Linked DNA regions of Homo sapiens. The protein of the gene in region 2 binds, or shares a complex with, the protein of the main gene of each other region. Each region holds a gene or a part of one and is shown on either strand. Other genes may lie near its edges.

The links. Proteins that work in one complex are often made in the same cells at the same time.
Region 1: CNOT6 (region 2) and CNOT11 share a complex: the UniProt entries of both Homo sapiens proteins name them as parts of the CCR4-NOT complex.

The regions. Positions count from the first base shown.
Region 1 is NC_000002.12:101,262,886-101,266,485, forward strand, and holds part of CNOT11 (CCR4-NOT transcription complex subunit 11), read left to right. Parts: intron 1-1,959; coding exon 1,960-2,162; intron 2,163-3,236; exon of another isoform or gene 3,237-3,600. UniProt on the Homo sapiens protein: Component of the CCR4-NOT complex which is one of the major cellular mRNA deadenylases and is linked to various cellular processes including bulk mRNA degradation, miRNA-mediated repression, translational repression during translational initiation and general transcription regulation.
Region 2 is NC_000005.10:180,574,205-180,578,154, reverse strand, and holds part of CNOT6 (CCR4-NOT transcription complex subunit 6), read right to left. Parts: 3' UTR 1-3,950. UniProt on the Homo sapiens protein: Poly(A) nuclease with 3'-5' RNase activity.

The DNA.
Region 1 (3,600 bases), on a different chromosome or scaffold from region 2:
AATGCATGCCAAGTTGTTTGTTGCATGTCTATCCTATGCATACCTAAAGATACAGGCTGGGCGCAGTGGCTCACACCTGCAATCCCAGCATTTTGGGAGGCCGAGGCAGGTGGATAACTTGAGGTCAGGAGTTCTAGAGCAGCCTGGCCAACATGGTGAAACCCCATCTCTACTAAAAATAAAAAATTAGCCGAGTGTAGTGGCATGCATCTGTAGTCCCAGCTACTTGGGAGGCTGAGTCAGGAGAATTGCTGAGGCAGAAGTTGCAGGAGCCGAGATCGAACCACTGCACTCCAGCCTGGGTGACAGAGTGAGATTCTGTCTCAAAAAGGAAAAAAAAAAAATACAGATTCTCATTTTACTGAAATGAGTCTTTTTGTAGCAGCTCATTATCTTTTTGTTTTATACCTGTTAAATCTTCTTATTGCTATCATTTCCTTTTCCATTTTAAAGTTTTTCTTATAAACTCCTAATTTACTTTAATTCAAAGAAAACACTTGTAGAATTTGAAATAATATAGCTGCATTTTTTGGGGATTTCTTTAAGAGATGGAATCTTGCTATGATGCCCAGGCTGGACTCAATCCCTTGAGGCTCAGGGGATCCTCCTACCTCAGACTCCCACATAGTTGGAATTACAGGCATGCACCACTCTACCTGGCATCTGTTTTATAGGCTTCTGTGTGCTTTGAATTATGAAGGCAAGCTTTCTGCTTTGGGATGAGAACATGTTTACCAGATGATAGTGTAGTATCACCATGAGTTTGAAGTTCACACAGTGACTTTTGTACCATTTGGTTTACAGTAGATCTTTGACATACATAGGTTTAATATTTGAAGTTTCTGCTGGTCACAAGTGTGACTGAAATGTCCATGGCATGTAATGGCTTCTTTTAAATATTTGCTCGGGCAGAACTCTAAATTGCATAGGTCACCAGGAAGATATATGAAAAGCAGATCACTCATAATAAGTGGGTCTAGCCAAACACCAGGTGTCCCCACCTCGCAAGAACTCTCTATCACATAAGTAGTATTTCTCATAAATTGTTAAAAACTTTATTTTTGTAAGTGGTTGAAGGGAGATTCAGATGCTAGTCCTGGTGAGGTAAGTGAAGAGGCAGTGGAGATGTTTAAGATAAAGTGATGATTTTTAACTAAAAAATATTTTCTGTAAACTCAACAGTAGACTCTCAAATTTGGCAGGGCTAGGATCCATGACAGGAATAAGCCACTCCTGCCCTATGTGGAAACTATGTGAGATGTGAAATTGGTTCAGCAGAAGTCCTAGCCAGCATTTATTTCAGTGGGTTTGTAACTCAGGGATGAATCTTGTTTTATAAAATAGTTGAGTTGAACCACTTCATTTTCCTTTTGTACTTCTATTGTTTTCTGAAAATGAATATAGTATTTGTGAATTTAGGGATTCGTGACGGTTTCCACATTCGTTTCGAAATATCAAAAGGCAACCATACTTTTCCTCCTGCTGCTTCATCGCCACGTAATTTGTTACTTCAGTTATAAGATGCAAAGATAAAACTAGTACAAATCATAGTGGCAGCTGAACAAATAGTGGTAACTAAGAATAGGATGTGTGAGGGCATAGTATTTCATTTTTTCATCAAAAGACTTCACCCGTTTAGGAGTCGTGCCCTTTTGCTGTTGAGTGGCCATGCTCAAGTGCAGCATGGGCAGATCACGGCCAGGCTTTCCTCACTTCTGCAAAGCGAATAGATTGTTCTCTGGCATCATGCTGGCATAGTGTTCTTTCATTGTCTTGTTTGCATTCTGACTGAAACCCTGACTTCCTGTGTCATTCCTGCTTCTGATTTTGAAGTATGAGAGTTCTAGTCACATCATCCTTATTAAGAGATTTCTTTGCATACTTTATTAAGTGAAATGTGTGAGATGTGTAGAGATGTTAGCTTCCTGATAGGAGCAACTATCACGGCTCTCATTACAGGCCATTTTCGACCAGAGTTTATTCGTCCACCGCCTCCACTCCACATTTGTGAGGATGAACTTGCTTGGCTAAACCCCACGGAGCCTGACCACGCGATCCAGTGGGATAAATCGATGTGTGTTAAGAATAGCACTGGTGTGGAGATCAAACGAATAATGGCCAAAGCCTTCAAAAGCCCCTTATCCTCTCCCCAACAAACACAGGTGTGTATTGATTGTAAGCATTTTCTTATCTTTTTTTTTAAATTTATTTTTAATTAAAAAAATTTGTTTTTGAGACAGAGTCTCACTCGGCTGCCCAGGGTGGAGTGCAGTGGCACGATCTCGGCTCACTGCAGCCTCTGCCTCCCGGGTTCAAGTGATACTCGTGCCTCAGCGCCCCCAGCAGCTGAGACTACAGGCATGCACCACCATGCCCGGCTAATTTTTGTATTTTTATGAGATGGGGTTTTGCCATTGTTGGCCAGGCTGGTCTGGTGGCTTCAAGTGATCTGCCAACCTTGGCCTTCCAAAGTGCTGGGATTACAGGTGTGAGCCACTGTACCCAGCCATTGTGAGCATTTTCTTATCTTTAATCCAACAAGAGTTTATTTTTTTTTTGGAAAGTGGTAAGCAATAAACTAATCCTGTCACTGTGAGTGAGCAGTAGGAAGTTGCAAAGGTTTTTGGGTCTCTGAAGCTTTGTTCTACTCTTTGGTAATTTTGCTGTGGTGGGGCAAGAAGTCTGATGGCAAAAATGTTCTAACTTTTCTTTGTGATGTTTGTCCCTGGGAGAGGTGGGGTAGTGGGGGTGTCACTGCTGTGTACAGTGGGACACTACACAATGGTTACGTTTGAGCTGATGGTAACGCTTCTGATGGAAAGTGGAGTTACTGACAGGCTGTAGGGAGGAAAACAAGGCTGGGAAGGGGAACCCGCCCCCATCACACAGCTGGATCGTGGTGTATTTGAGATTAAAGTAGCCCCCACTGCCCGAGTGTGAGACTGGATGACTCTCCTCAGGAAAGGCAAGGCCACTCTTCTATTGGTTGGTGAATTTTATCCAGTTTGCACACTTTTGAGTTAGAACTTTTTAGGAGATGACCTCTCCTATCACGTTTGCCACCAAAAATATCATTTTCAAAACGAAATAATAGCAACGTTTGTAGTTCGCTTTGCTCGCAAGACCATCCTGAAAACACAGTCCACTGTGGAACATATTAAGTAGACGGGGGAAAAAAAGCATAGGACATTTAAAGAGGAAGTGCTTACTTCATAGAAAAAGTCCTTTGAGGATACCTGTTTGAATTACAAAGTGTGGGTGTGACTTGAACTGTAAAGTTCTGCAGACTGATGACTCGCAGCAGGTCAGCTGTCCGGATTCCCGCTCCGGCTTCCCACTCCGCCCCCTTCTCAGGTATTTCTGGTCTCCACCTGGGTGGGGTGGGGCAGGACTGTTTCTTGGGAGAACTAGTTGGTCATTAAGATTATTTTTAGTTACAACAGATGACAGAAAAAAAAAACCTGCAAAGGACTTGACATTGTTACAACCAGACAGTATTTTATCTGACCAGACAGTGTGGAGTCTGGTTTGATGCCCAGGAATAGGAATCACTAGCATATTTATAAACTGTCTTAGATGTGTTTGCATTTTAGTTTGTTC
Region 2 (3,950 bases):
AAATACATTAGTTTACACCATTTCCCCATATCATGGCCCCGTCCCCCTGCACTCTTCCCTTTGGAAGGCTGAGTTACAACCCTGTCCCAGAAGATTCAGAATTTTAAATACGTGGTCTGCTGATCAACATTTATTTTTCCTCAAACCTCAGTACTACAGCTATACAAACTACACTTCTAAAATATTTGAAACAGATACTGAATTTATTGGTTGGCTATGAGTAGGAAAATACATCGGTAAAGAAAAAAGACCCTGTATATAAATATAATGCTAGCTAATTACAATTTGACCAAGAAGGTTCCACTGAACAGAACAGTAAAAGCCCTTGTTACTGCCAGTCCGTATGGTTTATTCAGTTCCCATCACCCTCATCAAAGAGCTGTCTGGGCGGATGTGACATTCTTTGAGCTTATAGTGCAGATAATGTGCTGGGTTTTGTTACATGAATGGTAAACAAGAGTTAGTCCAGTGCATCACACAATATAATGTACTGTGAATAAAGACTAGATACTTTTAGACACTACTTCAACATACCAGTTATTAAAATGTATGTAACCAAAAAGAAGAGCAAAGTGAACATCTTAAAATACTGTTTACGAATGGTGAAGAACACCTGCTGAAGGAGTTCTTGGAATTATCTGCAACATCTGTACTGGACATTCTGAGAGCTTCACTGAAAAAACGGTGCTGTCATTGTTTTGCCTAGCTTGGCTTTAGTCCTTATATATGACCCCAAAACCTTACAAGTCAGTATGGAAACTAGTTCCATAAATTTAAATAGTACAAAGTGAAACTCTAAAACTTGAATATTATTATTGAGAACCTGAATCTCGAAAGAGCTTTGAAATTTTAATTTAAACATTTAGAAGTGCATTCCATCCAATTTAATAATGTCCCTAAGTTTGAAAGTGCTAATAATCCCAAGTAAGTTTTCCTGGTTGTCACTAAATCATATTAAACACACACACACACACACACACACACACACACATTTCTGGAGATGTTCTCTGCCTATCTTTGGGACTATGAAAGTTGCACTCAACAATTCATTTCTACAACTTTAGCTTAAATTATGCCATAAGTTAACTTGACGAACAATATTGAAACTCTCAAAGCATAAATAATGACCACTAATATGGTAAAGCTGTACTTCAGGAGATTGGCGACAAGGATTTGGGTGCCTTCAAACTTCTGGTCTTTAAAACAGAAAACATGCCCTAAACTTTTTGTAAGACATTTCTAAAATGGATTTATCCAGCAAAAATACTGAAATGACATTATGGCAACACATTAAATATATTTGTTACAGAATTTTTGAAAAAAAATATACACCGTGAAAACATACTAGTTTTTATTGCATTTTAGGGATTATAGATTATTGAAAATTATTTAGGACACGGAAAATATCTAAAACATGAAACCTTTCTTAACAAAAGCATCATAGTCTATTTTGGTGTGACTGTTCATTACCTACAGACCCCAAATAGTTCTTCCTCTTTTGAAGGTTACACTTGTAAATCTACACTCTTGGTTCAATTTATCACTGTCCAAATAAGGTGGAGAAGCTGTTCAAACTGATCCACAGAATGCAGTATGCCTGGAAGAGGCAAAACAAGTATTTTCAAGACATAACAGGCCATTACATCTTAATATGCTGCCCCAAATTCAAATATATTGTAGACAATAACAAATACAGATGAAGACATTTTGTGTAAAGCTCAAACCTTTAGCATCTAACAAGTGCACTCTAGTTCCAGCATCTATGAAAAGATGACATCCTCCATTAACAAATACAACATGAGTAAGTGCTCCTCCTCTCCCGCTTCCATAAAGCTCTCTGGACCTGTGATTACATAATGCAGATCGTAGGAAAAGCTGCTTCCTCAGTCTCATTAGTCCAACCAGCTCCAGCTCACCTTCACTGGAAATTGTCATGATGCACATTACCAACACAGTGTTCAGGAAAAATGAGTAAACATACCTTTTATTCACACTTTACAAAAAAAAACCAATAACAAAACCCCATAAAAAGTTATGCACTGGTTCTACATCAATACCAGCTTTCCAATGTACTGATTATAAACTGGATGTGTTTGGTGTCAGCACAACTTAAACAAAAAGCAAAAAACAAAACCAAAACATCACAATGAAATCCTAGAAAAAACAAAAAACAAAAAACCCTCAAAGGAAAAAACAGGTCCAAGACCAAGATTCAACATCAAAACCTTTTGGAGAATTTTCTAAAAGGAGAAAAAAAAAAAACATAAGAATCATTTCCAAAATGACTCATTTTCTGTATAAAAATTGTTAGTAAGAGTGAGTATTTTTTTTCCTAATGCTCACATGGCGTCCTTTTGCTCCCCTGCCTGCAGTTGAAACAAAAGCAGTTTGACCAAGCTCCCTCTGCATTCATTTGACTTTTGAGAGAAGAATGAATAAATGAGAGCAGACCATGTACATGTTCACTTTGCAAAGTTAAAGCTGGTTTTCATCTCTAAATGGCACTATGGGCAAAATAGACGGTATGATGTAATTTTTATCTTGCTTGACATACTAAAATGACTTAGTCATTTTAAAAATGATCTGAAGAATTGTCTTAGGGACCTGTTTTGAAAATACATCTAATTCATACTGCTTCATAAATGGAAAATTACTTCTTCTTAAAAAAGGAATGATTAAAACAACAACAACAACAACAACAAAAAGACTAAGGAAAAGACACTGACGACAAAAAGAATTCACATGATAGTAGTATTCTGGGTGACAAGCAGCACACTGCAATGACACCGAGAAGCAGTGCTTGGATCTGGTGAGCAAAGATCCAGGGACTCACCCTATAACATGTTCCAAAATGTGATATTCAATGCTTCACAATGGGAAAAAGCCACAGCTCATACAAAAGCATTTTCATAAAATTCTCACAAATGTTAAACAGTATTTTAAAAATATAAAAGAGGATGCACAGATTTTCTCTGCATGCACAGGCAGTGCTTGGTGAGAACAAATTTAGGCAGGCACAGTGGAGATAGGACAGGAAGTGTCTCAAAAAGAGTTAAGAAGCTGGACCTAAGCAGCTGTAGGTTTTTAACTTTAAAAAGTTAAAGATTTAAAAATATCAGAATGTACATATATCAACCATTACATTCAGTCCATAAATGTCTACAGATCATCACTGTTCAGCTTATCTGTCCTAGTAGATAGTTTTCATAAAAATTCATGAATAAGTTGCCTCTGGTCTGAAAACATCCTAAGGTTGAAGCAGATTTATATGTAAAGAACCATGTTCTCAATTTAAAAAGAAAGTAGTACAAAAGGGCTAACAAAACCCTAAGAGTGCAAATCATGAGCAGAGAAAGTCTGTTGCAGCTTCTTTTACAAGCTGGCCTTTATAACACATGAAACAGGTTTAAAAAAAAATTTAGCCTCAGTTTACAATACAATCATTTCCAAATGATTTTAGTACAAAATTTCATAAATCAGGTCTTCTGTGGATCATATACAATCATAAAGGCTAAATTCAGATTCTGTACTTTACAAACAAGTCTGAAAAAGGAGGGAGTAAAGTATGGAAGAATGATCTCTGGATGTTGCTACTGGCCTCAAAAAAGCAGTGCTACAGATTTCTGTGTGAAGAGAATACGCTGTTCACACATTTTCCTATTTCCAGGCATGAAAATATTCTATTGGGTAGAAGAAATAGGAAAATCTCTTATGACAAATGAAAGACAGGTGCAAACACACCAATCCCTGTCTAGCAGTATAAAGCATATTGGGCTCAGAATTTGTCTGTTGCTAGCACCTGGCTTTCATACTATATCCTTATCAAATAATCAGATTGAAAGTCCAAATCATTCTTAAGCAAGCAAAAATCCTCAGTGGCCATACCTCACTCCCCTATGTTCAGATTTTCACAAGTTTACAAGTGAATCAAGGCTGTCCTCTGAAGGTGC